4 linked regions of the Homo sapiens genome follow. The protein of the gene in region 1 interacts with the protein of each later gene in a pairwise test. Each region holds a gene or a part of one and is shown in the gene's direction. Other genes may lie near its edges. The genes, in order: TEX29, SLC35B2, CMTM7 and CLEC7A.

Evidence for each region.
Region 2: the proteins of TEX29 (region 1) and SLC35B2 interact in binary tests that used the Homo sapiens proteins (3 or more experiments, as listed by UniProt).
Region 3: the proteins of TEX29 (region 1) and CMTM7 interact in binary tests that used the Homo sapiens proteins (3 or more experiments, as listed by UniProt).
Region 4: the proteins of TEX29 (region 1) and CLEC7A interact in binary tests that used the Homo sapiens proteins (3 or more experiments, as listed by UniProt).

What each region holds. Positions count from the first base shown.
Region 1 is NC_000013.11:111,337,641-111,344,664, forward strand, and holds the end of TEX29 (testis-expressed protein 29), read left to right. Parts: intron 1-1,653; coding exon of another isoform or gene 1,654-1,798; intron 1,799-2,222; coding exon 2,223-2,292; intron 2,293-5,115; coding exon 5,116-5,291; intron 5,292-6,442; coding exon 6,443-6,483; 3' UTR 6,484-6,608; downstream 6,609-7,024.
Region 2 is NC_000006.12:44,254,528-44,262,126, reverse strand, and holds the start of SLC35B2 (adenosine 3'-phospho 5'-phosphosulfate transporter 1), read left to right. Parts: upstream 1-4,598; 5' UTR 4,599-4,716; coding exon 4,717-4,727; intron 4,728-4,838; exon of another isoform or gene 4,839-4,945; intron 4,946-5,248; coding exon 5,249-5,442; intron 5,443-5,630; coding exon 5,631-5,785; exon of another isoform or gene 5,786-5,789; intron 5,790-6,482; coding exon 6,483-7,421; 3' UTR 7,422-7,599. Other genes in the region: NFKBIE (NF-kappa-B inhibitor epsilon), read left to right, coding at 279-501, 1,588-1,676, 1,845-2,084, 2,843-2,908. UniProt on the Homo sapiens protein: Probably functions as a 3'-phosphoadenylyl sulfate:adenosine 3',5'-bisphosphate antiporter at the Golgi membranes.
Region 3 is NC_000003.12:32,436,840-32,443,863, forward strand, and holds part of CMTM7 (CKLF-like MARVEL transmembrane domain-containing protein 7), read left to right. Parts: intron 1-5,000; coding exon 5,001-5,174; intron 5,175-7,024.
Region 4 is NC_000012.12:10,120,200-10,127,223, reverse strand, and holds part of CLEC7A (C-type lectin domain family 7 member A), read left to right. Parts: intron 1-515; coding exon 516-653; intron 654-1,775; coding exon 1,776-1,927; intron 1,928-2,050; coding exon of another isoform or gene 2,051-2,137; intron 2,138-3,860; coding exon 3,861-3,979; intron 3,980-7,024.

The sequences.
Region 1 (7,024 bases):
AGCTGGTTATGGTAGCCCCGGATATTTGGAGGTGAGTCTGCCCCACTGTTTCCCCTCCTCAGGTAAGCAAGTTTCCACGGGACAGTCCTCACTTAAAGAAATAAGGCAGCTGATTGGAAGAATGTTTGACAAGCAGTTTCCCAGTGTGCTCCTCGGTACATGCACATTCCTGTTATCTGACAGCTTGCAACCCCAAGCCTCGCTCCCTTCCTCCAGCCTCTCTGTGAGGAACTCTTATCGAGCGCCCATTGGGTACTTCACCATTCCTTACTGAGGTCACCTCGGTATGAGGAAAATCGAGGATGTGGGTTACCCTCACAAGCTGGCTTCAATCCCCTCTCAGTTTTCTGACTTCAGTCCCCATGGAAAGAATCCTGGGCACCTCATCCATTGCTGGTGGCCCTGTGATGAGTCCAGGGAGTGCGGATCCCTTCGGAAGCTGGCTCATGTGCCCAGGAGGCCACTTTCTCTGCACCTGCGGCCTTGCTTCTGGGGTGGGTTGAATTGTGTACACCCAATGCATATGTTGAAGTTTAGATCCCTGGTACCTGTGAATGTGACCTAATTTAGAAAAAAGGGTCTTTGCAGGTGTAATTAGGTAAGATGAGATCATAGTGGAGTAGAGTGAGCCCTCCATCCAAAATGGCTGGTGTCCTTGTAAAAAGAGAAGAGACACAGAGACAGAGGAAAGACAGCCACGTGACAATAGGGGCAGAGACTGCTGTGATGCTAGGAGGAAGCCAGGGAGGACCCTTCCCGGGAGCCTTTGAAAAGAACACGGCCCTGCTGACAGTTTGTTCTTGGACTTCTGGCCTCCAGAACCATGAGATGATCAATTTCTATTGTTTTAAGCCCCCCAGTGCATGGTACTTTCTTACAGCATCCCTGGCAAACTGACACACCATCCAGGGAAATTACATCTGATGGTGTTGTTACTGCTTCACGACTTGGAAGCAGTTTAGCAGGAGGGGAGGTATGGGAATTGAAGCAAATCGTGTCACCTGCACTTGATATTTGCAAGTCAGCCAGTTTCTTTGAGAGAGTAAGAAAGCAATTAGAGAAGAGACTAATATTGATAATAATAACAACAATAAGAATTACTCTGTATATGTGATTAGCCAACCACTTAAGAACTTTACTTGCATTCATTAAAAAATTCCTTACATCAACCTGACGGAAGGAACATAGAAGAACAAACAGTAGATGAGGATATTATTTGACCAAGGACTCTGAGAGGAATGATGCTCGTGTACAAATGTTAGGACTTGAGGGGTCCAAGTCCTGAACCAATGAGCCGACGGAGATCCAGATATCAGCCCTCGGTGCTGGGCGGTGCTGCGCCCCTCAGGCCTCTTGCACAGACAGGGCCCTGCCTGCTGAGCAGTGGGCAGTCTCTCAGAAAGAGGCTCAGGAGGGGGCTGAGCAGTTCCTCCTCCCAGTTACCCCCGTCTTGGAGAGGCTGGGAGTGCACTCACGCAGGGAAACCCAGGGTGGCGGGGCTGCCCCTCGTGGCCACCTGGGGAGGCTTGACTTTTGCTGAGGCTGGGTTGGAGAAGGCACGGGAAACTTGGGGATTGCAGGAACCCCTTTTAATACAAGGAAGCCCAGTCAAGGATTTGTCTATGATCCAATAAGTGTTTTCCTTGTATTCAGTTTAGGGGAGGAATTGACCTGGGCATTGAGGAGCCATTTCCAGGGAGCTGGGGAGCACAGCAGGAACAGAGGGGCCAGCGCCATCTCTCCACGCACCCCCAGGGGTCAGGAGCCAGCACCATCTATCCTCCACACACTCCCGAGGGTCAGGAGCCAGCGCCATCTCTCAGCACAACCCCGTGGGTCAGGAGCCAGCGCCGTCTCTCAATGCACCCCCGGGGGTCATGAGCCAGCGCCATCTTTCCATGCACTCCCGGGGGTCAGGACCCAGTGCCGTCTCTCCATGCACTCCCGGGGGTCAGGGTGGTCACAAGGTGTCCTCTGGGTGGCACTGACTACCACCTGGAGCTGCCTTTCACAGGGAGCCCTCGCCTGCCTGCGGGGGCCTTTGGAGATGTCCACAGAGCTGAGTCTCCAGGAGACGCTGGGGAGGGTGGGTGAGGAGTGCTGACCATGGGCAGCCGCGCCGGGAGGGCCCGCACCCGACTCTGGGAGGGTTGCCTTTTCTTCATCTTCTTCCTTTTCTATTTACCTGGATCGAAATGACTTCAAATCCCACCATTTTTCAGTTTACATCCACGTGTTCTCTGCCTTGATTGTGATCATCGCTGGGGCCTTCGTCATCACCATCATCTACAGGTCGGTCCCTTTGTTCTTTACTGGGAGGGTGGGGAGGAGGGGACTCACCTCTCCTGGCCGCAGCTTCCTGCCTGCCTGGGCTCCTTCGGGCTTGGTGCTGCTGGGGTGACTGAGAACAGCTCTCCGTGAGCCTGGGAAAGGGAACTGGCCAGGCTCACGGAGGGCCCCACTGATTTTCTCCAGAGTGCTTGTTGATGAAAATCATAACCCATGTTTAGTGAGCACCTGTGCTTGTTGATGAAAATCATAACCCATGTTTAGTGAGCACCTGTGCTTGTTGATGAAAATCATAACCCATGTTTAGTGAGCACCTGTGCTTGTTGATGAAAATCATAACCCGTGTTTAGTGAGCACCTGTGCTTGTTGATGAAAATCATAACCCGTGTTTAGTGAGCACCTGTGCTTGTTGATGAAAATCATAACCCGTGTTTAGTGAGCACCTGTGCTTGTTGATGAAAATCATAACCCGTGTTTAGTGAGCACCTGTGCTTGTTGATGAACATCATAACCCGTGTTTAGTGAGCACCTGTGCTTGTTGATGAAAATCATAACCCGTGTTTAGTGAGCACCTGTGCTTGTTGATGAACATCATAACCCGTGTTTAGTGAGCACCTGTGCTTGTTGATGAACATCATAACCCGTGTTTAGTGAGCACCTGTGCTTGTTGATGAAAATCATAACCCGTGTTTAGTGAGCACCTGTGCTTGTTGATGAACATCATAACCCGTGTTTAGTGAGCACCTGTGCTTGTTGATGAACATCATAACCCGTGTTTAGTGAGCACCTGTGCTTGTTGATGAAAATCATAACCCGTGTTTAGTGAGCACCTGTGCTTGTTGATGAAAATCATAACCCGTGTTTAGTGAGCACCTGTGCTTGTTGATGAAAATCATAACCCGTGTTTAGTGAGCACCTGTGCTTGTTGATGAAAATCATAACCCGTGTTTAGTGAGCATCTGTGCTTGTTGATGAAAATCATAACCCGTGTTTAGTGAGCACCTGTGCTTGTTGATGAAAATCATAACCCGTGTTTAGTGAGCACCTGTGCTTGTTGATGAAAATAATAACCCGTGTTTAGTGAGCACCTGTGCTTGTTGATGAAAATCATAACCCGTGTTTAGTGAGCACCTGTGCTTGTTGATGAAAATCATAACCCCTGTTTAGTGAGCACCTGTGCTTGTTGATGAAAATCATAACCCGTGTTTAGTGAGCACCTGTGCTTGTTGATGAAAATCATAACCCGTGTTTAGTGAGCACCTGTGCTTGTTGATGAACATCATAACCCGTGTTTAGTGAGCACCTGTGCTTGTTGATGAACATCATAACCCGTGTTTAGTGAGCACCTGTGCTTGTTGATGAACATCATAACCCGTGTTTAGTGAGCACCTGTGCTTGTTGATGAACATCATAACCCATGTTTAGTGAGCACCTGTGCTTGTTGATGAAAATCATAACCCGTGTTTAGTGAGCACCTGTGCTTGTTGATGAAAATCATAACCCGTGTTTAGTGAGCACCTGTGCTTGTTGATGAAAATCATAACCCGTGTTTAGTGAGCACCTGTGCTTGTTGATGAAAATCATAACCCGTGTTTAGTGAGCACCTGTGCTTGTTGATGAAAATCATAACCCGTGTTTAGTGAGCACCTGTGCTTGTTGATGAAAATCATAACCCGTGTTTAGTGAGCACCTGTGCTTGTTGATGAAAATCATAACCCGTGTTTAGTGAGCACCTGTGCTTGTTGATGAAAATCATAACCCGTGTTTAGTGAGCACCTGTGCTTGTTGATGAAAATCATAACCCGTGTTTAGTGAGCACCTGTGCTTGTTGATGAACATCATAACCCGTGTTTAGTGAGCACCTAAGACTCTTAAGAGCTCTGCTCAGCCTTTTCAGCCCTTGAAGCCACTGACGATGTAAGTGAACTTACTGTCCCCGGACTGGGATGATTGACGCAGCATCGAGGGGGTCCCGAGGCTGATGGATGGGGCAGTGAGGCTCTAACTCAGGCTCCCAGTTGTCTCAGAGTCCCTGAACCCAAGGCTGCCTGCATCTCTTGGCCTGTGGCCTGCGTCCTCATTGCAGGGTGTCAGGGTTTGGAGGTGTCTCAGAGATGAGTCCACTCCCTCTCATTTTAATGGTGAGGAAATGCAGACCCGGGGGGCCAAGGAAGCAGGTGGCTATTCCCAGGGCAGGGCTGGAATCCAGCATCTCACTCCCCGGCCACCACCTTCACCATGAGCCCACTCTGTGTGCATACAAGCCCCTGAGATTATTTGAGTCTCTTTGTCCAGGAATGAGTAAAGCCATTTTCCTACCATGAGTGGTGCTGTATGCTGTCTTATGTGTGTTAATCATGAAGATGAGCCGGCAGTAGCCTGCAGTGCAACACACACCTTCCCCCTGCCCGGAGCTGTCTTTGGGAGTCTAGCTGCCTCATACAGCCATCTGTTTGGAGCCTGCACAAGAAACTAAAATGAGGCTGGATGTGGTGGCTCATACTTGTAATCTCCCAGCACTTTGGGAGGCTGAGGTGGGAGGATTACTTGAGCCCGGGAGTTGGAGGCTGCAGTGAGCCGTGTTTGTGCCATTGCACTCCAGCCTGGATGACAGATCAAAACTGTCTCAAAAAAAAAAAAAAAAAAAAGAGAGAGAGAAAGAAACGAAAATGAGAACTATTACATCAAAGCATTTACCTTAAAAAATAAGTATGCATGATCAGGAACCTGTGTTTTCAGAGGGATGTCCTGGTGGGTGGGAGGGAGGAACTGGAGAGTTTTCCATCTGTAACTTCCCTGACTGTGATAAAACCCTCTTCCCATCAGAGTCATTCAGGAGAGCAGGAAAGAAAAGGCCATCCCTGTGGATGTCGCGCTGCCACAGAAGTCCAGCGAAAAGGCGGAGTTGGCCTCATCCAGCAGCAAGTTAGGGCTGAAGCCTGCGAGTCCTGGGCCTCCAAGTGCTGGGCCCTCGATGAAGAGTGACGAGGATAAGGATGATGGTGAGAAGCTTCTGGAATGATCCTCAGCCTAAGGTCAAGGGCGTGGCTCTGTTCCCTCGGGAGACCTTCCCTGGGAAGGGGCTCAACATCTACACAGGCCCTTCAACCTCAGTGATCAGTGTTGCAGTTTGTTCAAAATTGTAATGTACCCAACATTGGAGGTTCAGGTTTGCAGGGTGGATGTGGCTGTCAGTGTGAGTTTCCTTCTGTGAGTCTTGTCCTCCCCCTTCCCATCCCCTTTTGCCTCCCTGTCATTTCACCCTCTGGCGGGGCCCTCATTGTTAGTGTGGGAAGCTCCTGGGGAGGGGGCAAGAGTCCTGCAGAAACTGCACATTTGATCAGGTGACTTCCTGTGGGGAGGCTGCAGGGCTGCCATGGGTACTCTCTGTGGCACCCTGGCCACGTGGTGGTCTTGGTTGTGCAGGGAGGCTGCCAGGCTGCTGTGGGTATTCTCTGTGGTGCCCTGGCCGCCTGGTGGTCGTGGATGTGCGGGGAGGCTGCAGGGCTGCTGTGGGTACTCTTTGTGGTGCCCTGGCCACGTGGTGGTCGTGGTTGGAGAGGTGGACGATCACTCTATGCCTGCTTCGGTTTCCAGGAAGGAAAGTTTCTCATATGTTGGTTTACCTGCTTTGGGGGCCCTTGGAGGTTGCCGGTTGCTTTTCCTAGATCAGCACCTTGCCAGGTTAGAGAAAGAAACATCTCAAATGGTAATCCTTATCTTCAGAGATGTTTGTACAGGATACAAACGGCCTGGCCTTACCCATTGTTACCAAATAGACTTGGCTTTACAGGGACCATCAGGAAAATCAGGAGGCAGGGTAAGAGGGCAACCCACACTTGATTTCAGATCTGGAATGCCTGGCCCCTAACTGAGGCTGCGTCTGTGCAAATGAGGCTTTCCTGCAGGACAGATGTTTGCCTGGTTAAGGGAGCCTCCTGTGTAGAGAGATGATGTGGGAGGAAGAGTGTTTTACTGTCCCCTAGAATGCAATGAGAAACATAGGAGGATACGGCCATCCCCAAAACTGGCTTTTGAATCAATCATTGCCAATCAGACACCATGTAGATGGGTTCAAAGATCCTGATGAAATCTTTTCGGGACTGCTGAATATTCCATTTGAAAAAACAATTCTTCTTTTCTAAAAATCTAGTAACAGGGACAATAACAGAAGCCGAAGAAACTGAGGACTGACTGAGACGCATGAAGAAGTGGAGATTGTCAGAATTATCCAAATGAAATGGTACAGCAGGTGCACTGTTAACAGTGTGATGGAATGACCACCCAAAGAGAAAAAAATAAAGGTATTTTGAAAATTGCTTCTCGTCCGATGTTGCTTATTCATTGCTATATTTTTATCTTAGGAGAGAGAAAGCCTGTGGGGTAGGAGAGTGGGAACCTGAACTTTCAGTTTTTAATGGCACTGCTTGTCACTAATATTAACACTATGGGGGCTCACAGCATGGGCTCAAGGTGGTGTCCTCGAGGTCTTCTTTTCAGAAGGCAGGCTGCACTTTCACCAAGAGTGGGCTGCCACACAGACACAGGCGGTTCAAGACTCTGGCATTTGGCTTTGCTAGGACTCAGCCGTGCTGCGAGGGAGGAGCAGCGTCTGGATCTGGATCTGAGAGGCCCCAAAGCATAGGCCGTAGCTGCCTGAGAGCCCCTCATGCAAGGCAGTGCGCTCAGTCCCAGAGTGGCCGACAGATGCTCACAGGCACGCGCAGGCCGGCCC
Region 2 (7,599 bases), on another chromosome or scaffold:
CTCCTACATGTCCTTTCTCCAGGGCCTAAGGTGACTTACAAGAAAAGCAGAGAGCTACTTTCTTCACCTTGCTTCCAGAATTGGGATCCCAAGAGCTTGGTGGGGGAGGGGTGTGACAGGGGAAGGGCTCGGTAGTATTTCCTTGGAAGAACAGGTTATGGCCTTTATAAGCTGCTTTCAAAGAAGATGCTGGCAGCTGGTGATTCTTGAGCCCAAGCATGTTCCCAGAGGTGGGAGCATGCTGCAGTGGCCCCATGACCCTCTATTTGTGCCTCCAGACAGCACTCCATCTGGCTGTACATCTGGACCAACCGGGCGCAGTTCGGGCACTGGTGCTGAAGGGGGCCAGCCGGGCACTACAGGACCGGCATGGTGACACAGCCCTTCATGTGGCCTGCCAGCGCCAGCACTTGGCCTGTGCCCGCTGCCTGCTGGAAGGGCGGCCAGAGCCAGGCAGAGGAACATCTCACTCTCTGGACCTCCAGCTGCAAAACTGGCAAGGTGTGGACAGTCTTTAAGACTGCCCTTAGGGCCTGTGGGATGAGGAGGGCATAGGAGATAGGGACCTCACTCTTGGGGAAGGGAGGGTCCCAGCTTGTCCATTGGTGCCCCTCCCACTGTAAGCACATAGATATTCAGTACATCTTTGCCAAATGAATGAATGGATGATTTGATTTCGAATTTAACCAGTACCTACTGCCTGCTGAGAAGAAAACTAAATCTTGCCCTTAAGATACTTAGTTTAATAGAGATTAGATGACCTGATTCATTCATTCAACAGAAATGTACTGAGGGTTTTCTATGTGCCAGACGTTATCCTAGGAGCTACACTTGCATCTGTGTGCAAAATAGAGAAAGATTGAGATGAGCAATAAATGTAAGAAGTGAACTATGTAATATGTTAAAAGGAAGTAAGTGCTGTAGTAAAAAGCAGAGCAGAGTGAGAGGAAGGAATGTGGGGAGTAGGAGAGTTGATATGATTGTTAAATAGGGTGGTCCGGGAAGGCCTCATGGAGCCAGTGACATCTGAATAGCGCCCTGAGGAAGGTGAAGAATGTAAATTTGAATCGAAATCTCTATTACTAAGCAAGGGTCGGGAGTGTCCAGACTAGAAAGGAGAGCAAAAAGGCCAGGGGAGCACAGAAGGAAGCGGCCCCTGAGAAAGGGCTGGGGGCATGAGGATCTTAGGTGGCTTTTCAGAAAAGGTGGCTTTCAGACTGGGCTTGAAGGCAGGTTGTGTGTGTGTGTGTGTGTGTGTGTGTGTGTCTGTATGTGTGTGTGTGTGTGTGTGTGTGTGTGTTGTAGTTTGTGTATAGGAGGAGGGTGTTCTTTGGGGGTGTCACTCAGCAGCCTGACCCCTGAAGCATGAAAGTTTCAATAACATGACTCTGAAAAGGTGGAAACTTTGAGTTCCTTTCCCCTTAGACTTTTGAGGGGGTTTTGGGGTTTGCATTTTAACAGTCTTGTGATTAGAGACATTGAGTGGGCTGTGAGTCCCTTGGGGCTGAGTGGTAGGGAGGTCCCAGAAGAGAGGGAGTTGGTGGATGCAGATCAGCAGCCCTCACCCTCACTCTCACCCCATCCCAGGTCTGGCTTGTCTCCACATTGCCACCCTTCAGAAGAACCAACCACTCATGGAATTGCTGCTTCGGAATGGAGCTGACATTGATGTGCAGGTGAGACAGCCAGCAAAGCACTGCCCGGCCCAGGGCCTGCCCCCACCTGACACATCCCCAAGTCCCCTGCCCAGCAGTCAGAAGTGGTGGCATTCACTTCCTTATCCAGAGCCCAGGCCCAGCACACTGCCTCTGAGGGCCTTGGCTGACATCCTTATTCCTCCCCAGGAGGGCACCAGTGGTAAGACAGCGCTGCACCTGGCTGTGGAAACCCAAGAGCGGGGCCTGGTACAGTTCCTGCTCCAGGCTGGTGCCCAGGTAGATGCCCGCATGCTGAACGGGTGCACACCCCTGCACCTGGCAGCTGGCCGGGGTCTCATGGGCATCTCATCCACTCTGTGCAAGGCGGGTGCTGACTCCCTGCTGCGGAATGTGGAGGATGAGACGCCCCAGGACCTGACTGAGGAAGTAAGTGGCATATGCTTTGCTCTCCAGGGCCTTGCACACCCATAGCAGAGAGAGGTTCTGTCATTAGCTGAAAGGGCCAGGGAGCCAGGAGTCCTGGGGTATAACCAGGACTCTGCCACTGACCAACTGTGGGAACTTGAGCCTGTTTCCTTAGTTGGTCCAAGGAGCCAAATTTGGACTCTTACAGGGACCCTGCAGTTAAAGTGAATCAGTGAAGTTGGCCAGATATGAGACCATGGTGTGGTGAGGCCTATAAGAACCCAGAGAGCCATCCCTGAGGGTCTCTGTACTCAGCTTCAGCAAAGGCTTACAAAGCAGGAGTGTAGGCCCAGTTTTTCCTGGTCTTGGACTTTCTTGAGAGGTGAAACTCAGATTTTCTGTACAGTCTTTCCTATTTTTAAATGTTCAGTGTAAAAAAGAAACCTAAATGTTCTGCGAGTACCCAGCAGCCCCCCCACCCCATCCCCCAACAACAACAAACAACTCCAGGTCCATGGGCTGGATCACCTCTAAGGGTCCCTCCTAACTCGGATATTCTGGCATTATCTTAGAAAAGGAAGGCTTGTCTAAGTCCTCAGGGCTCTGCCAAGCCCAGAGGGGCCACTATTTTGAGGATTCGTGTGAAGATTTGTTCCCTGATGGTCTTCAACTGTCATTTGGTGGGGAGGGAGTGGCCCAACAGGTTTCCCTGGGTCCCCTTTCCCAAGTCACCTTTTCCCATGTCCTCTGATCTTGCTTCTCTCCATTCTCCTTCTCAGTCCCTTGTCCTTTTGCCCTTTGATGACCTGAAGATCTCAGGGAAACTGCTGCTGTGTACCGACTGAAGCCAGGCAGGGTCTGGGATCCTCAGGGCTCCACCTCTCCATCTGGAAGCCGGAGCCATAACTGCTGCAGTTTGGGCCCAGGCTATGTGCTCTTCTGGTGCCCTAGGGACTGCTGTGGCCAGAGCCTGGGGCCAGCCAGTACAGTCCTGAGCCGAGGAGGAGGGACTGCAAGTGGAAGAGAGCCAGTCTGGAAGGAAGAGCTTTCCAGGTGGACAGGGCTTCTTGGAAGACCCCCAAAGCCCCAGGTATCCTGGGTGAAGCCTGTTTGCCTCTCTTGAAAATGGCAGGTGCTCTTGTTTTACCCATGTTGGGTCAGCCTGAAACTGCCAACCAGTAGGAAGCATGGACTCTCCTGAGTGAGAAGAGACTGAAATAGGAGCAAGCAGAACCCTGAGAGGTGTCCCATCTTATTGCTGTTGAGGACCCTGAAACACCGTTGTTTAAAGACTTCACACAGAAGGCTCTGAACTGAGCCACTGGGGAAGGGAAGTTTCAGTAACATGACACTAAAATGGCAGAGACGTTAAAAAAAGTTTTTCCCTTCTAGAGCTGTTTTGCGCGCATGCATGTCTGTGTGCATTGGGGCTTTTTAGACAGGCCTGCCCTGTGACTTTGTGGTAGAGGCAGAGAGAAGGAAATTGTCCCCTGAGCACGGTAGGGCCTTGCTGGGTGGGGTCAGAGGCCAGTAGTTCCAGGCCTTTCTCTGTGTCCAGCACAGACCCTTGTCCTTGCTGTGGAAATGATGAGGGATGGAGGGACAAGAGGAAGAATGAGAGGACACACGCCCTGGAGCCCTCACCACTGCCCTGGGGGTTGCCATCTGGAGGAGCCTGGGGATAAGGGTAACCCAGGGAGGCTGGGCACGAGGGAGCTGACTCCACGTTTTTCCCCCCGTTCCTCACCTTCGAGGGCCCTGCTAGGTCACCCCTATGCTGGCATGAAGAGCATGGGGCAATAAACCAGCACAGTCTCTGACCACTTGGAGCGTCTCATCCAGTGAGAGAGACAGCCGTTAAAAGCATAAACATCCAAATAAAGATGCCTTTCCAAGTTGCAGTGGGTGCTATGAAGGGAAAAGAATAGTGGGAAGGAAAAGGATGGAGTCGGTAGAGGGTCATACTTTGGGTGGTCCGGGAACCCTCGCCTGAGGAGTATCATCTCAACTGGGATGTAAGGATGAGTAAAGGGATGGGGGCAGAGCATTAGGGGGAAAGCCTGTGAATTAGAGGAACTGAGAGCAAGCCAGTGGGGCTTCACAGCGGGCGAGTGAGTGGGCGAGGAACGCGGGCGAGGCCATGTAGAGCCTCGAAGATCATGGGAAGTGGGACAGAATTACTACCCAGCCAACAAAGCAAGGAGACACCTTCATCCTGTCAGAAAACGGGGAAACTAACACAGAGGAGCGGCTTGGGATGCAGAGCCTCAATGTCCTGTCCACAAGATGGCAATGGTCACCATGACCTCTGGGACGCTTATGAAGGGCGATGACGAAGCACAGGGGACACGCCGGGCGGGCGCCTCTTCAGGGCTGGGGCTCCCCGCGCCCAGGGGCAGCCCAGGTCCCCGGAACCCAAGCCGCGTCTGCCTCCGGGCCGCGCGGGGGCGCTGTGGTCCGGCGGCGGCCCGGGGCGCTGCGTGGTCGCGGCAGGGGCGGAGGGGGCCGCGGGGAGGGAGGCGGGAAGAGCGCGGCACTTCCGCTGGCCGCTGGCTCGCTGGCCGCTCCTGGAGGCGGCGGCGGGAGCGCAGGGGGCGCGCGGCCCGGGGACTCGCATTCCCCGGTTCCCCCTCCACCCCACGCGGCCTGGACCATGGACGCCAGGTGGGGGCTAGGGCAGCAGCGAGCTCACGTGACCGAGCCCCCGGGCCACGTGACTGCCGCGCCTCAGCACGGGGGCCGGGTGGGGTCCCGGCTGCTCGGCCGTCGGCCAGCATATCGCTGCCCGGAGCCAGCGGGGATGGGAGCTGCGGCTTGGTTTTGTGCTCCTTGGGGAGCTTCGGGCGGAGGGGCTGGGGACCCTGACGTCCCGGATCGTGGAGGGGAGTGTGGGGGAAGGGGCGCTTCCTCTGACCTGAGCAGCCGGCTAGCGTTGGAGGGAACAGAGGAGACCTGTGTGGCCAGAGGGGCGGATCCGCCCCCGGGGAGGGAGGAAGCTCTGCCTGGCCAGCGCCGGCGCACCCCCTCCCCGAGAGAGAGAGAGAGAGAGAGGCTCTTTGTCCGGGCCGGAGCTGCAGCGGAGGGGGCGGGGAGGAGACTCCGGGCACTACTCCAGTGTGGTCCCCTCTGGAGGGCGGAGGGGATGAGGAGCTGCGCCCTAATCCTTATGTCCGCTTTCCTTACAGATGGTGGGCAGTGGTGGTGCTGGCTGCGTTCCCCTCCCTAGGGGCAGGTGGGGAGACTCCCGAAGCCCCTCCGGAGTCATGGACCCAGCTATGGTTCTTCCGATTTGTGGTGAATGCTGCTGGCTATGCCAGCTTTATGGTACCTGGCTACCTCCTGGTGCAGTACTTCAGGCGGAAGAACTACCTGGAGACCGGTGTGTGAAGAAAGGGCGGGGAAGTGAGCTAGGTCGGGAAAGAGGGTATTTGGCCAGCAGTCCAAACGGGATATGACTTGGAGAGGGCGGGAGGTCGGTAGGCCGGACAGCAGGGCAGGCTGGCTGCTCTGGGGAAGATGAAGTGCTATGGAGAAGATTTGGGGCTTGACTTTGTGTGCTTTCTTCAGGTAGGGGCCTCTGCTTTCCCCTGGTGAAAGCTTGTGTGTTTGGCAATGAGCCCAAGGCCTCTGATGAGGTTCCCCTGGCGCCCCGAACAGAGGCGGCAGAGACCACCCCGATGTGGCAGGCCCTGAAGCTGCTCTTCTGTGCCACAGGGCTCCAGGTGGGTAGGTGGGCTCAGCCTCTCTTCCTGGGTTGGATGCCGGTGGGCAGGGATTCTGTGAAGGTTTCCATTTTACCAGTCCCAGAGCTTTGCTGGCTGGTGTGTTTCGTGTCCTCCTCCCAGGGGCACACTGCACCTCCATCTTTGAGGTGTTTGGGGGAAATGCCCTTTTGTTTCTTCCTTTTCTCCTCTCCAGCACTGGTACTGAAAGTTCATGCTGTTATTTCAAGATGTCTAGTGCAGAAGAGAGGACTCCTCTTGCCCTATTCTCTGTGATTTCTACTGTGCCGTTATTATACTTCCTTCCTGCACTGGTGTCTCACATACTGTAAACCCACTGATAAAATTGTGGGGGAGCCATTCAGCCTTCCCCCAGTACTGCATGTGAGAGAGTGCTAACATGCTGACCCCATGGCATTTTGCAGTGGGTACTAGTTCCACCTTGAATATCATGTTGAACTACAGATACCCAATTCTGAGAGTTCTTGCCTCCCTGAATAGGTTTTTCACACACAGTTGATTCCCTACAAGGTGAATCCAGACTTAGGAGGGGAGAAGAAACTTCTACAGAGGAACCAAAAAGTGTATATTTTCCTTTGAATCACTTAGGCATAATCCTGAAGAGAGAGAGGTCAATTTTTGTCTACCTTTTCATTATCTTGCTTATTGTCTCCTTTGTCTCTACCTTCCCCAACAGGTGTCTTATCTGACTTGGGGTGTGCTGCAGGAAAGAGTGATGACCCGCAGCTATGGGGCCACAGCCACATCACCGGGTGAGCGCTTTACGGACTCGCAGTTCCTGGTGCTAATGAACCGAGTGCTGGCACTGATTGTGGCTGGCCTCTCCTGTGTTCTCTGCAAGCAGCCCCGGCATGGGGCACCCATGTACCGGTACTCCTTTGCCAGCCTGTCCAATGTGCTTAGCAGCTGGTGCCAATACGAAGCTCTTAAGTTCGTCAGCTTCCCCACCCAGGTGCTGGCCAAGGCCTCTAAGGTGATCCCTGTCATGCTGATGGGAAAGCTTGTGTCTCGGCGCAGCTACGAACACTGGGAGTACCTGACAGCCACCCTCATCTCCATTGGGGTCAGCATGTTTCTGCTATCCAGCGGACCAGAGCCCCGCAGCTCCCCAGCCACCACACTCTCAGGCCTCATCTTACTGGCAGGTTATATTGCTTTTGACAGCTTCACCTCAAACTGGCAGGATGCCCTGTTTGCCTATAAGATGTCATCGGTGCAGATGATGTTTGGGGTCAATTTCTTCTCCTGCCTCTTCACAGTGGGCTCACTGCTAGAACAGGGGGCCCTACTGGAGGGAACCCGCTTCATGGGGCGACACAGTGAGTTTGCTGCCCATGCCCTGCTACTCTCCATCTGCTCCGCATGTGGCCAGCTCTTCATCTTTTACACCATTGGGCAGTTTGGGGCTGCCGTCTTCACCATCATCATGACCCTCCGCCAGGCCTTTGCCATCCTTCTTTCCTGCCTTCTCTATGGCCACACTGTCACTGTGGTGGGAGGGCTGGGGGTGGCTGTGGTCTTTGCTGCCCTCCTGCTCAGAGTCTACGCGCGGGGCCGTCTAAAGCAACGGGGAAAGAAGGCTGTGCCTGTTGAGTCTCCTGTGCAGAAGGTTTGAGGGTGGAAAGGGCCTGAGGGGTGAAGTGAAATAGGACCCTCCCACCATCCCCTTCTGCTGTAACCTCTGAGGGAGCTGGCTGAAAGGGCAAAATGCAGGTGTTTTCTCAGTATCACAGACCAGCTCTGCAGCAGGGGATTGGGGAGCCCAGGAGGCAGCCTTCCCTTTTGCCTTAAGT
Region 3 (7,024 bases), on another chromosome or scaffold:
ACCAGACACCTCCCCAGCCCAATCAGAAGCCGACGTCTCTTGAAAACTGCCTCTTGAGTTTTCTGTAGAGATTTTTCATCGTAGACCTCAAAATCTCATTTCTTTCTGGAAGGATGCTCAGCCAGGCTGAGAACCTGGGCAAACTTTCTGGCACCTGGCTGGTTGCGGGTGTACACTCAAGCTGCAACCAGACTAGTTTGGTTCCAGAGTCCTCAGGGGACCATCACTTTTCTCAGATCATGTCAGCTTCCTTCATCTCTTGTGAAATTTAAACCCTCTGCTCCTTCCAAAAAATCATGTCTTCTTTCTAGTAAGAATTCTGACAGAATGGAGTCAGAAAGGACACAGGTTCCAGGGAGTGATGTTTCTTATCTGGAATTCTAATTCCAGTGATTCTGTGGTATCATGGCTGGTCTGTGGGACCCTTGCTTTGAGTTGAGGGCTCTTGCAGTGTTACTTTTAAACCCCTGGACATGGCTGGGCACCGTGGCTCACACCTGTAATCCCAGCACTTTGGGAGGCTGAGACGGGTGGATCACTTGAGGTCAGGAGTTCGAGACCAGCCTGACCAATATGGTGAAACCCTGTCTCTACTAAAAATATAAAAATTAGCCGGCCGTGGTGGTGCACACCTGTAGTCCCAGCTACTCAGGAAGCTGAGGCAGGAGAATCGCTTGAACCCAGAAGGCAGAGGTTGCAGTGAGTGGGGATAGCGCCACTGCACTCCAGCCTGGGTGACAGAGTGAGACTCTGTCTCAAAAGAAAAAAATAGGCCGGGCGCGGTGGCTCACGCCTGTACTCTCGACACTTTGGGAGGCCAAGGCATGCAGATCGCAAGGTCAGGAGATCGAGACTCTCCTGGCCAACATGGTGAAACCCTGTCTCTACTAAAAATACAAAAATTAGCTGGGCATGGTGGCGCATACATGTAATCCCAGCTACTTGTGAGGCTGAGGTAGGAGAATCCCTTGAACCAGGGAGGTGGAGGTTGCAGTGAGCTGAGATGTTGCCACTGCACTCCTGCCTAGCGACAGAGTGAGACTCCATCTCAAAAAAATAAAATAAATAAAATAAACCCCTGGACATTTATGTTAGATATTTTATTTTTATGACAGTTCAATATAAAAGAACAAACCGTTACGAGAGGAGCTAGAAGGCACCTTAAGAGGCAAGTGAACCCTTTGGACAGCATCACTTTGAAGTTACTCTACACAGAAACATCTGTCTTCCAGGAGCCTCCCAGCTGCTTCACTCCGTCCTGAAGTCAGAACCCCTACCTCCAGTCCTCTCTGAATTCAGGCGTGTTTGTGCATTTGCTTTTCTAACTGGGAACACGAAGACACCTGAGAGGGTTGGAGCTGGCGGGAGGAGGGCAGGGATAAACACCCCAGCGCCTTTTCCCCACTATTGTCTTGTTCTTTCTTCCACTTCACCTTTGCTTTCTTTTTTAACTTGTATATTAAGTTCAGGGGTACTTGTGTAGGTTTCTTATATGGTAAACTTGTGTCATGGGAGGGGGTTGTTGTACAGATTATTTTGTCACCCAGGAATTAAGCTTCTAAATAATTCAGGGGGCCCCAGCATTTGCAGAAGTTACCTACTGGCTTTAGAAGAATTTCTGAAAAGTTTGATGTCAGTCAAATCTTTTTTTTTTTTTTAACTTAATATGCTGGCTAAGATGCTGGCTATTTAAAGTTGGAATGAATGAATCCCTGGGCAAAAAGGAAGCTTTTAGGAGCACGCATAAGCACACACCATACTCTGGCTAAATTAGATTTTCTAAAATTGGGCTTTCCTAAAGAAAGTCATATGGTAGATGGCCATAGGCCCAGTGAACCGAATTCAGAAAGTGTTATTTCATGAGCAAGTTTCCCAGAAAGGTTCGAGATGTTTCTGATAGAGCAGGAATGTACTTCCTACTACACAGTACTCAGCCCTGGAGGCTCAGAGCAGGAAGACCTGACCTGCACAGGCCCCTTTTGTTGGCTGGGAAACTTCCACATCCCTGTGTCACCATGAAAAAGAGCTAACTTTGTCTTCAACGACGAGTTGGAAAATTATTTTAATCTCTGCATTAAACTAGATGCAAAATTGCCTCTCTACCTAGGAATCACGCTGCATAATCCCACATTATCTGCATTTTCAGTCATGCCTTGAATAATGATACTTGAGTTCTTGAGGAGGTCATTGTGGGGCTGGGAAGACCCCTAGACTTCCCCATGTAGATGTGGCCTGGAAGTAAGACTAACGTAGCAGCAAAGCCCTGGCGATCATGCACACTCCTGAGTAAGGCAGAGGTGTGAATCATTATATCACCATGGCTGGCTAGCTTCAGAGGAACCGAAAAAATGAAAACACTTGCGTTGCTCATTAGCAAAGGGAAATACACAAATGTTGAGGGACTCTTTGTGTCACAGCCACACTCTTCTGTTTCGATCTGGTAAGCAGAGCACTCTCCATACCTGCTTCAAGCTTCCAGCTGAGAGTTCTCTTTTAGCTGTTGTACCTATTGCTGAGGATCTTGATAGTGGGCTAGCAACAAGGGGCTTTAGAAAATAAGAGCATTTCAGCATCAACTGTTTTAACTGGAGTAAGATCCATTTTGTGATTTGATTTGATTTTTATTTTTTTAGAGACAGACTTTCACTCTGTCTTGCAGGCTGGAGTGCAGTGACGTGATAATAGCTCACTGCAACCTCAACCTCCTAGGCTCAATTGATCCTCCCACCTCAGCCTCCCAAGTTGCTGAGACCACAGGTGCATGCCACCACGCCCAGCTAGTTTTTGTATTTTTTGTAGAGACAGGGTCTTGCTTGTTGCCCAGGCTGGTCTCAAACTCCTGGCTTCAGGTGATCCACCCGCCTTGGCCTCCCAAAGTGCTGGGATTGCAGGCGTGAGCCTGGGATGCCAGGCATGCACCAGGCCCCATTTTGTGATTTAATTCTCATTGTAGACTGACATTTTCTATAGCAGAATTTTTCAACAGTAGTACTGTAGTTGAGGGGCCACATTTGGGGCTGGAGATGGGTAACTCTTTACTATGGGAGCTCTCCTATTTATTGCAGGGTGCTTAGCAGCACCCTGGGCCTCTACCCACTAAATGCCAGTAGCAACCCCCATCCCCGCAAATTGTGTAAACCAAAAATATATACACACATTGCCAAATGTCCCATAGGACACAAAATCATATACCCATACGCTAACACACCCATACACTAACACCACACGCATACACACACACACACACACACACACACACACACACACTTTAAGACTCGCTGCTCTGGCCAGGCGTGGTGGCTCACACCTGTAATCACAGCACTTTGGGGAGCTGGGGCAGGCAGATTACTTGAGTTCAGGAGTTTAAGACCAGTCTGGCCAACATGGTGGAACCCCCTCTCTACTAAAAATGCAAAAATTAGCTGGGCATGGTGGTGCATACCTGTAGTCCCAGCTACTCTGGAGGCTGAGGCAAGAGAATCGCTTGAATCTCGTAGGCAGAGTTGCAGTGAGCCAAGATCATGCTACTGCACTCCAGCCTGGGCAACAGAGTGAGACTCCATCTCAAAAAAAAAAGAATCACTCCTCCATAGGAGAGAGGCAGTGTATAAAATAATCTTTTTTCTAAATTGGTTGTGCATTTTAAATAGATTCCTGGCTGGAAACAATGGCTTACGTCCATAATCCCAGCACTTTGGGAGGCCAAGGCAGGGGGATTGCTTGAGCTCAGGAGTTTGAAACCAGCCTGGGCCACATGGCAAAACCCCGTCTCTACTACAAATATGAAAATTAGCCAGGCATGATGGCACACGCCTGTAATCCTAGCTACTTGAGAAGCTAAGGTGGGAGGATGACTTGAGCCCAGGAAGCAGAGGTTGCAGTGAGCTGAGATTGGTTCACTGCACTCCTGCCTGGGGAACAGAGCCAGACTCTATCTCAGAAAAACAAAAACTAAATAACTAAATAAATAAGTAGATTCTAAGATTTTACACACATTGAATCCCGTGTGTTACTGGTTTGTTCCCTACATGGAGTAGACAGGTTTTCTCTTTGGCCTTCACGGAAGCTCAGACTGTTACTCATTCTACTTTCTTGTACTCATGCATTGCTAATAGTTTTCATCTGGTTATTAATTCAGTAGCAGGCCGTTAAGCATGTTCACTCGTGCTGAGATATTTCTTAGTGAGCTCTCACCACATGCCCTGATGGTGAGCAGCCTCACCTCTTAAACAGGATTCCTGCATGGTTGAGAACCCGTCCACCTTTCTCGGCTTGTTATGATCAGAGCTTACACTTTTGGGAGGTAGAACTGCATCTGACATGGAGGAACATGGTCCTTAGAGTCAGACAGACCTGGATTCAAATCCCACTTCTGCTTACAAGCCAGATAGCCTTGGACTGATGATTGAACCTGCATGCCTCCGTTTCCCCTTATGAACATGGGGATGATTTTGTCTACCTGGCAGGGTTCTGCATGGCCTTAGCGAGATCACGTATGTCAGACATCAGTAAATGGTAACTTGTTATCTGTCAGTTGATAGCTGTAAGGTATGAATTACCATCTTTGTAGGTCAAAAACCATCAAATATTGGCAACTTCGTACAATTGGGCCTAATATGTAAACCCCAGGTCACCATCACGCTGTCCTCTTTGCTCTATGGATATCCAGCAGATGAAAGGGATGGTTCTGCTTTGTTATTTTCTTGTTTTCCTGCTTCTTCTGAGGGGGCTTCCCGCTGGCACAATCTAACAAACTTCAGAGAGGACGAAGTCAGTCTCTGCTGTCATCAGTGTTCACAGACAGTAGTTTCAAAGTGTGTACCACATGAAGTTGCAGTCTTCCAACCTTCCAGCCAGTGTGTATGGAAATAACCTGAATTGTATTAATAGCAGTTCTTCAATGTGGGCCTGCTGGGGGATGCTTGGTTGTTTTCCGTTGTTTGTTCCCTGGGTGCCCGTCTTGGGCAAGCATTTCTCTGATGTCTCTATTTATGTGGCAGGTCACCCTGCTGATTGCCTTCATCTGTGTGCGGAGCTCCCTGTGGACCAACTACAGCGCCTACAGCTACTTTGAAGTGGTCACCATTTGCGACTTGATAATGATCCTCGCCTTTTACCTGGTCCACCTCTTCCGCTTCTACCGCGTGCTCACCTGTATCAGCTGGCCCCTGTCGGTAAGAGAGTGGTCTGGCCCTGTCCTCCGCATGCACAAGTCAGGATGTTAGCTAGAGTACTGAGACCTGACAGAGTTTTTCCCGTCTGCCCATCTCACCTCTTTAACCATTCTTTGCTGCCTCTGCCCTGAATTTCCTATTGTTTGGTGGACATCTCTGCTTGATGTCCTGCTGGTTTTTAAAACTCACTTTCCAGCTACAAGAAGGCTGTGGCTGGCCGGGCGCGGTGGCTCACGCTGGTAATCCCAGCACTTTGGGAGGCTGAGGCGGGCGGATCACGAGGTCAGGAGTTCGAGACCACGGTGAAACCCCGTCTCTACTAAAAAATACAAAAAATCAGCCGGGCGTGGTGGCGGGTGCCTGTAGTCCCAGCTACTCAGAGAGGCTGAGGCAGGAGAATGGCGTGAACCCGGGAGGCGGAGCTTGCAGTGAGCCGAGATCGAGCCACTGCACTCCAGCCTGGGTGACAGAGCGAGACTCCTCTCAAAAAAAAAAAAAAAAAAAAAAAAAAAAAGAAGAAGGCTGTGGCTATTGCCCCATGCTTACTTTCTCAAGCAACAGAGAATGGCTGTGTGTGTATGAGTTGGGAAAAGGAACACGGAAGGAAATTGTAGGTGAAGATGATGGGTATTGATGCTGTTGTGAGGATTGAATGATAGGATTTTCTGGCTAAAAGAGACTAGTGGGGGCTGAGGAGACAGTCAGAAGTTGCCAGACTTTTTCTTCCCACTGTATTATTTTTTAAAGCTTCATTGAGATGCAGTTCATATGCCGTATTGTTCACCCATTTCAAGGGTACAATTCAATGGAGTTTAGTATATTTCCAGAGTTGTCCAACCATTACTACAGTCAACTTGAGAACATTTTCATCATTTCAGAAAGAAATTCCATACCTTTTAGCTGTCACCTCCCTACCACTCATCCCTCCAGTCCTAAGCAATCACTAATCTTCTGTCTCTAAAATTTTTCTACTCTGAACGTCTCATGTAAATGGAATTGTATATGTGGTCTTTTGTAACTGGCATCTTTCACTTAGCTGAATGTTTTCATGGTTCATCCATGTTGTAGCAGGTATCAGTATTTCATTCCTTTTTTTCTTTTTAGAGACAGGGTCTCACTCTGTCACCCAGGCTAGAGTGCAGTGACGTGATCGCGACTCACTGCAGCCTCAACCTCCCAGGCTCAGGTGATCTTCCCACCTCAGCCTCCCGAGTAGCTGAGACTACAGGTGCATGCCACCACACCTGGATAATTTTTGTGTTTTTTTTTTTACAGAGATGAGGTTTCATTGTGTTGCCCAGGCTGGTTTCAAACTCCTGGCCTTAAGCAATCCTCCCACTTTGGCCTCCCAAAGTGCTGGGATTACAGACATGAGCCACCATGCCAGCCTTTTTATAACCAAATTTTATTCCATTGTGTGGATAGACCAGACTGCATTTTGTTTTTCATTCATCTTCAGTGGACCTTTGGGTTGTTTTTACCTTTTGGCTATTATGAATAATGCTGCTATGAGCATTCATATACAAGTTTTTTGTGTGGACATATTTTCATTTTTCTCTGGTATGTATCTAGGAGGGGAATTACTGAGTCATATGGTCACTTTGTGTTTAATTGTTTGAGGAACCGCCAGACTGTATGCCAAAGTGGCTCACTGTTTTACATTCCCACCAGGAGTGTATGAAGGTTCCAGTTTCACAACATCTTTGCCAACACTTATTATCTGACTTTCTGATTCCAGCCATTCTAGTGAGTGTAAAGTGTTATTTCCTGTGGTTTTGATTTTCATTTCTCCAGTGACTAATGATGTTAATCATCTTTTCATGTGCTTTTGGCCATTTGTATATTTTCTT
Region 4 (7,024 bases), on another chromosome or scaffold:
GTCGATATTTTGTAATGGATTAATATTTTTTTTACATTTTATATCACATGCAATCTGTTGTCAGTCACCTTCAGAGAGTCTTCATGACATTCCTTAATTAGTCAAATGTTTATTGAGTGCGTTCTATGTTATAGGTACTGGGCAGTTTCTCAAGGATCTCTCATTTTTAAATAACAGAAGAAAGGTGAAAGATGTTGCTATTTCAAATCTGTCATGGGTCCAATTGACTCTATGACATTTGCCTCTTGCTGCCTCCCTCATTCTATTTCTTCTTCTCCACCTTCTTTTTTCTTTTCTTTTTTTTTTTTTACTATACCTCCTTTATAAAAGTTATGTATTTCTTTTCATCTATTCTATCAATCGTCTTTATCTCTCCACAGCAATATATCATCTATTTATCATTAATCAATAATGTATTCTTTTATTCCAATAACATTTGGGTTTTGGGATTTTAATTTTCAAACACAGCAGAATGACATTTTTTCTGTCACTATTATTATTGTTGGTATGTGAAGCTATTTGGAGATCCAATTCAGGAAGCAACACATTGGAGAATGGCTACTTTCTATCAAGAAATAAAGAGAACCACAGTCAACCCACACAATCATCTTTAGAAGACAGTGTGACTCCTACCAAAGCTGTCAAAACCACAGGCAAGGGCATAGTTAAAGGACGGAATCTTGACTCAAGAGGGTTAATTCTTGGTGCTGAAGCCTGGGGCAGGGGTGTAAAGAAAAACACTTAGATTCAATGATTGTAAATTTAAGGCAAATACACATATTAGTATTACCTTAGTGTAATGTATCCCTGTCATATATACAATAAGGTGAAATTATAAGTACCCTATGCAGTTGGCTGGACAGTTCTAAATTGGACTTTATTAATTTTTAAAATCAGTAACTGATTTATCACTGGCTATGTGCTTAGATCTACAGGAGATCATATAATTTGATACAAATAAAAGAAAAGTGTTCTCTCCCCTTACAGAATTGACATTTTAAATGCGATACAGTTAGAATAGGAAATATGACATTAGAAAGGAAGAATGACAGGGAGAAAGGAAAGAAGGGAAAATGTTGCCAAGAATAAGGAAGCTATATTAAAAATATACAAAAGAGGTAGACCTAATACACATGTCCCTGAAAACTCATCAAATTTGTTTAATCATACAATTTCATTTACTTAATTACAATTCTATACACACTTGACTTTTACTTCTAATTGCATCATAATTGACTATGACTTAATGTTTTCAGTTCAATTTTTCATCTCTGGACCCATACCTTCTCACTATTTTTATTAAGTAGCTAATAATATATAACAGAGATAGTGTATAATATGAATAATTGGCCTATACTTTTCTCACTTGGAAAGTCACATTATGAAGTAGATCTTACATCATAAAATAAGTAGCAATATGAAATTGCTGTGTACCTCAATGACTGATTGTGAGTGGACTTATTTTAAGGAGTTATTAAGGAGAAAGGTAGTTTTGAGCTGAATTAGAAGGAATAGAAGACAAGTGAAGAAAAAAAGGATGGTTGGCTGCCTAAAATACTATTTATAGCTAGTTTGTTTTTAAATTTTAAATGAATAGGAAGATTTTAATGTATTCTCATCTGTAAAATCATATCCCTGTAGTTCGAATTGACAATGAAATATAAAAATGGCAACTAATTGGTTATTTCATAAGTGTCCTTAAGATGAATGGTGTTCACACTAAAAGAGTGAATTGGTATGCTATGAACCTCATGGTACTAATCTTTTATTTCCAGGGGTTCTTTCCAGCCCTTGTCCTCCTAATTGGATTATATATGAGAAGAGCTGTTATCTATTCAGCATGTCACTAAATTCCTGGGATGGAAGTAAAAGACAATGCTGGCAACTGGGCTCTAATCTCCTAAAGATAGACAGCTCAAATGAATTGGTAAGTGTAGACTTCTGTTATGATTATCTGTGGTGTGTATCCTGAAGGAAGATAGAGGGAGATTCCAGGTAATGACAATTTTTCCTAAAATGAAGTCTTTTTTTTTTTTTTTTTTTGAGGCAGAGTCTCACTCTGTTGCCCAAGCTAGAGTGCAGTGAAGCCGCGACATCCCAGGCTCAAGTGATCCTCCCACCTCAGCTTCCTGAGTAGGTAGGACTACAGGGTGCACCACCACACTCGTCTAATGTTTTTTTGTATTTTTCATAGAGACGAGGTTTCTCCATATCATCTGGGCTGGTCTCAAAATCCTGGGCACAAGCGATCTGCCTACCTCGATCTCCCAGTGTTGGGATTACAGGTGTAAGCCACCATACTTGGCCAAAATTCATTTTTAATATCTCTATAATTATAATCATAGCATGCCTTAAGCACATAAAGTGCATAGTATATGCTTTTATTTTTAACTAATTTAAAAAACTGTGTTTCGCCTTAAAACAAATCCTTTCAAACATACTCCATGTATGCATGACTACAATAATCAGGACACTACCCATTTTTGTGAGTTTGTATTTCAATTTTTAAATATGGTGGAAGTAAAGTAGAAAATTCTTCTCCTTGTCATCATAATTATCAAGAAAAATGGCAACAATGATAATATATGTTTAGAAATTATTTACTCTTTGCAAGATACTGGGAAAGGCAAAGAGGGTTAAAACATAACCCTGCTATCACAGGACACATATAATCTTTTAAGTAAAAAAAAAGCAACTCAGCAGCTATTAAAAGTTAAATATCTGGCATTAGCAATAAATTCTATAGGAGTTTAAAGAGATCCCCGTGTTCCTAAGAAGTTTTCAGAAAAAGTGGCACTTATAACACATCATGAATGAAGGGTAGAGCTTCAATGAGGTAAGATAAGGGGTTAATAGGAAAAATTCTATGTTATAAATCTAAACCAGTCTATAACTTCTACACCTACTTTCACTATTCTTATTTTGTTTTTGTTTCTGTAATGTCTTACCCAGTAGTAATAATTTATATTAAAGTTAATGGAACTAGATATATGGCAAAGAAAGAGTACTGGATTACAAGTCTATCTGACTTTTAGGCCAGCCTATAATTGAAAATAAATTGTTATAGATTTGTAAACAATTCAGATATCTTCACTGAACCTCAGATTACATATTCATAAAATATACAGTTGGACTAAATTATTTTTAAGTTGTTACCTAACTCTGAGAAGTACTTCTTAACGAAAGTAGCGTCAATTTATTTCTTCAATTGGAGGAGAAGACAATGGCTAATCATCCATGAAAACTGCCTAGGGGGACTGTCATCTGGGATTTTGTCAGATAGGTTGAATGGAGGCAGTACAGTCCTCACATTACAAATCTATTCTTTTGGAAAATTAAATGATAATTACTTTAAATAAATAAGATAGGCCTTTTGAGACATTCAATGACATTCAAAAATTGGCACTTCTCTCTAGGTTGATGTCAGGTTAGGCATGCATTCTTTTTTTTTTTTTTGAGACGGAGTCTCGCTCTGTCGCCCAGGCCGGACTGCGGACTGCAGTGGCGCAATCTCGGCTCACTGCAAGCTCCGCTTCCCGGGTTCATGCCATTCTCCTGCCTCAGCCTCCCGAGTAGCTGGGACCACAGGCGCCCGCCACCGCGCCCGGCTAATTTTTTGTATTTTTAGTAGAGACGGGGTTTCACCTTGTTAGCCAGGATGGTCTCGATCTCCTGACCTCATGATCTACCCGCCTCGGCCTCCCAAAGTGCTGGGATTACAGGCGTGAGCCACCGCGCCCGGCCTTGCATTCTTTACCAAAGTGATTCAATCAGTTGTCTTTTTCTCAGCGTCCATGATAATAGTTTCTTTCTCTCTCTCTCTCTCTCTTTATTATATATTTGTATATGTTTCATTACAGGGATTTATAGTAAAACAAGTGTCTTCCCAACCTGATAATTCATTTTGGATAGGCCTTTCTCGGCCCCAGACTGAGGTACCATGGCTCTGGGAGGATGGATCAACATTCTCTTCTAACTTGTAAGTGTTTGGAGAGACAATGCTTCATCCTTTTTCTCAGAGAGGTTTCCATCTCATCTATGAAAACCTCTGTCGAGCAGCTAAGAACCTGATTTGCTCACCATATATGAGAAAGAGAGGGAGAAAGATATAGAAGAAGAGAAAGAGTGAACTAGGACAAGAGGAGAAAGATGAGGAGGACCTTAGAGTGAAAAAGAGTGAGGCCATCTAGTAGCATCAACACAGATATTCTTCTGGTTTTCTTACTAGGGAGGCATCGACATGTTTGAAGTTGTCCAGGCAAGGAGCAGTCACTGTCAGTCAGTGTAACTCCCCGGTTAAGAGCATGGGTTTTGAAGCCAGGCCTCAGTTTGGGTTAATGATTACCCCACTCACTGATTGTGTGACACTGGGGATAAGTCACTTTTCCTCTCTGAGTCCCATTTTCCATAAACAAGAATAGAAAGGTGCTCTTGGCCAGGTGTGGTGGCTCACACCCGTAATCCCAGCACTTTGGGAGGCCCAGGTGGGCGGATCACTTGAGGTCAGGAGTTTGAGACCAGCCTGACCAACATGGTGAAACCCCACCTCCACTAAAAATTTAGCCGGGTGTGGTGGCATTGCCTGAAATCCCAGCTACTCAGGAGGCTGAGGCAGGAGAATTGCTTGGACCTGGGAGACAGAGGTTGCAGTGAGCTGAGATTGCACCATTGCACTCCAGCCTGGATGACAGAGTGAGACTCCAGTGAGACTCCAACTCAAAAAAAAAAAAAAAAAAAAAGAAAAAAAGAAAGAGTGCTTTCCTCTTAGAATTGTGAGATGGGTATAAAAGTAAAATAATTTAGCACAGTGTCTTGTACATAGTTAATGTGTGAGACTTATTATTAAGTTAAAAAGCAACCACATTTTCACATTTTGCATTTTAGAAAGATATTTTAAACGTATTTCACATTTGCCTGATGATACATTATTCCTTATTATGTGGTTTCTGTCACTGCTGTTGTCATTCATTTGCTTTTTAATATCTGCAGAATATGAAATATGTCTCTTTTAAGTTCTTATTATTAGTGTGTGTGTGCACACCTGTGTGTGTTTTTTCATCTGTCTCAGTAGGAGTACCGTTCAATTTGGTTTTTCAAAGAAAGTAACTTTTGACTTTGTTGACTCTGTCTTTTTATTATTTCTTTCATTAACTTTTATTCTAATCTGTATTACTTCCTTCCATCTAATTTATTTTTATTTTATTTTGTTTTATTTTTTGAGACAGAGTCTCACTCTGTCACCCAGGCTGGAGTGCAATGGCGATCTCGGCTCACTGCCAGCTCCGCCTCCCGGGTTCACGCCATTCTCCTGCCTCAGCCTCCTGAGTAGCTGGGACTACAGGCGCTCACCACCATGCCCGGCTAATTTTTTGTATATTTAGTAGAGACGGGGTTTCACCGTGTTAGCCAGGATGGTCTCGATCTCCTGACCTAATTTATTTGTTTTAAATTTGCTATTCCATCTCAAACTTCTCGTATTGGGTGCTTGCCTCATGAATTTAAGCCTTCCTTTATCTCAAGTATGTAGACTTAAGGCTATAATTTTAATGTATTTTCATTGTCTTTCAGTTCAAAATACTTTCTGATTTCCACTGTGAGCTGCTCTTTGACCCAGGAGTTATTTAGAAATGCATTTCTTAATTTACAAACATATGTGTTTCTGGTTATCTCTTTGTTTTAGGTTTCAGGCTTAGTTCCACTGTGATCAGAGAACATGCTCCACGTGCTTGTAGTTCTGTGATTTTTACGTGCTTCTTCCTCTTTCCATATGAAAAGAATTGTGTTGAAATCTTCCGCTGCGATTCTACTTACAGTTCTGTAAACATTTTATTCGATGTGTTGAAGCCGTGTTATCAGGCACATAAAGATTTAGAATTGTTACTTTTTTTCCCCTTTCTTTCCTCCTTTTTGGACGATTTAACACTTTTTCTTATTCTGTTTTTTTTTTCTGTTCATTTGGAATGTGCTCTTTCATGTCTTTTACATCTCTTTTACTAATCTTTTAGTAGTTGTTCTAGGAATTACACATGTATACTTCACTCATCAAAGACTAACATTAACTGACATTTTTATGTTCTTCCTGACCAATATAAAAATCATAGAGCATTCCTTTACTCTGTTGACTCTCTCCTCAATTTATATGCTATTATATTAATGTATTTATTTTTATTTATTTATTTTTATTTTATCGCCCAGGCTGGAGTGCAGTGGGGCAATCTTGGCCTACTGCAACCTCTGCCTCCTGGGTTCAAGCGATTCTCCCACCTCAGCCTCCTGAGTAGCTGGGACTACAGCTATGCGTCACCAGCTGGGTGTGGTGGTGGACGCCTGTAATCCCAGCTACTCAGAGGTTGAGGCACCAGAATTGCTTCAACCCGGGAGACGGAGGTTGCAGTGAGCCGAGATCGCACCACTGCACTCCAGCCTGGGTGACTGAGCCAGACTCAGTATTAAAAAAAAAAAAAAAGAAAAAGAAAAAAGAAAAAACTAGCCCTTGGGCCGGGCGCGGGGACTCACGCCTATAATCCCAGCACTTTGGGAGGCCGAGGCAGGCGGATCACTTGATCTCTGGAGTTCGATACCAGCCTGGCCAAAATGGTGAAACCCCATCTCTACAAAAAAAAAAAAAAGATATAAAAATTAGACAGACAAGGTGGCGCACAGATTTATGCAGTTAGTATTCATTTCAATTTGCCCACATATTTATGATTTTAGTTGTTTATTTCTTTCTTCCTTTCCAACTGTACATTACAGGTATTTTTTCTTAAGACTGATATTTCCAGTAAGTATAGAATTAGAGGTTTGTTGTTTTTCCTCTCAGCCACTCAAATATATTATTCCACTGTTTTCTATTTTTTACTGTTGTTTTTGAGAGGTCATCTGTTTGAAGGTAATATATGTTTTAAAACTAATGTGTTTACTCAGCACTGAAAAATTCTCAGCCATACTTGCTTCATATTTTGCTTTTCCCCATCTTTTTTCCCTTCTCCTGGAATCCCAGTTACATTCATTACAGACCCATTGA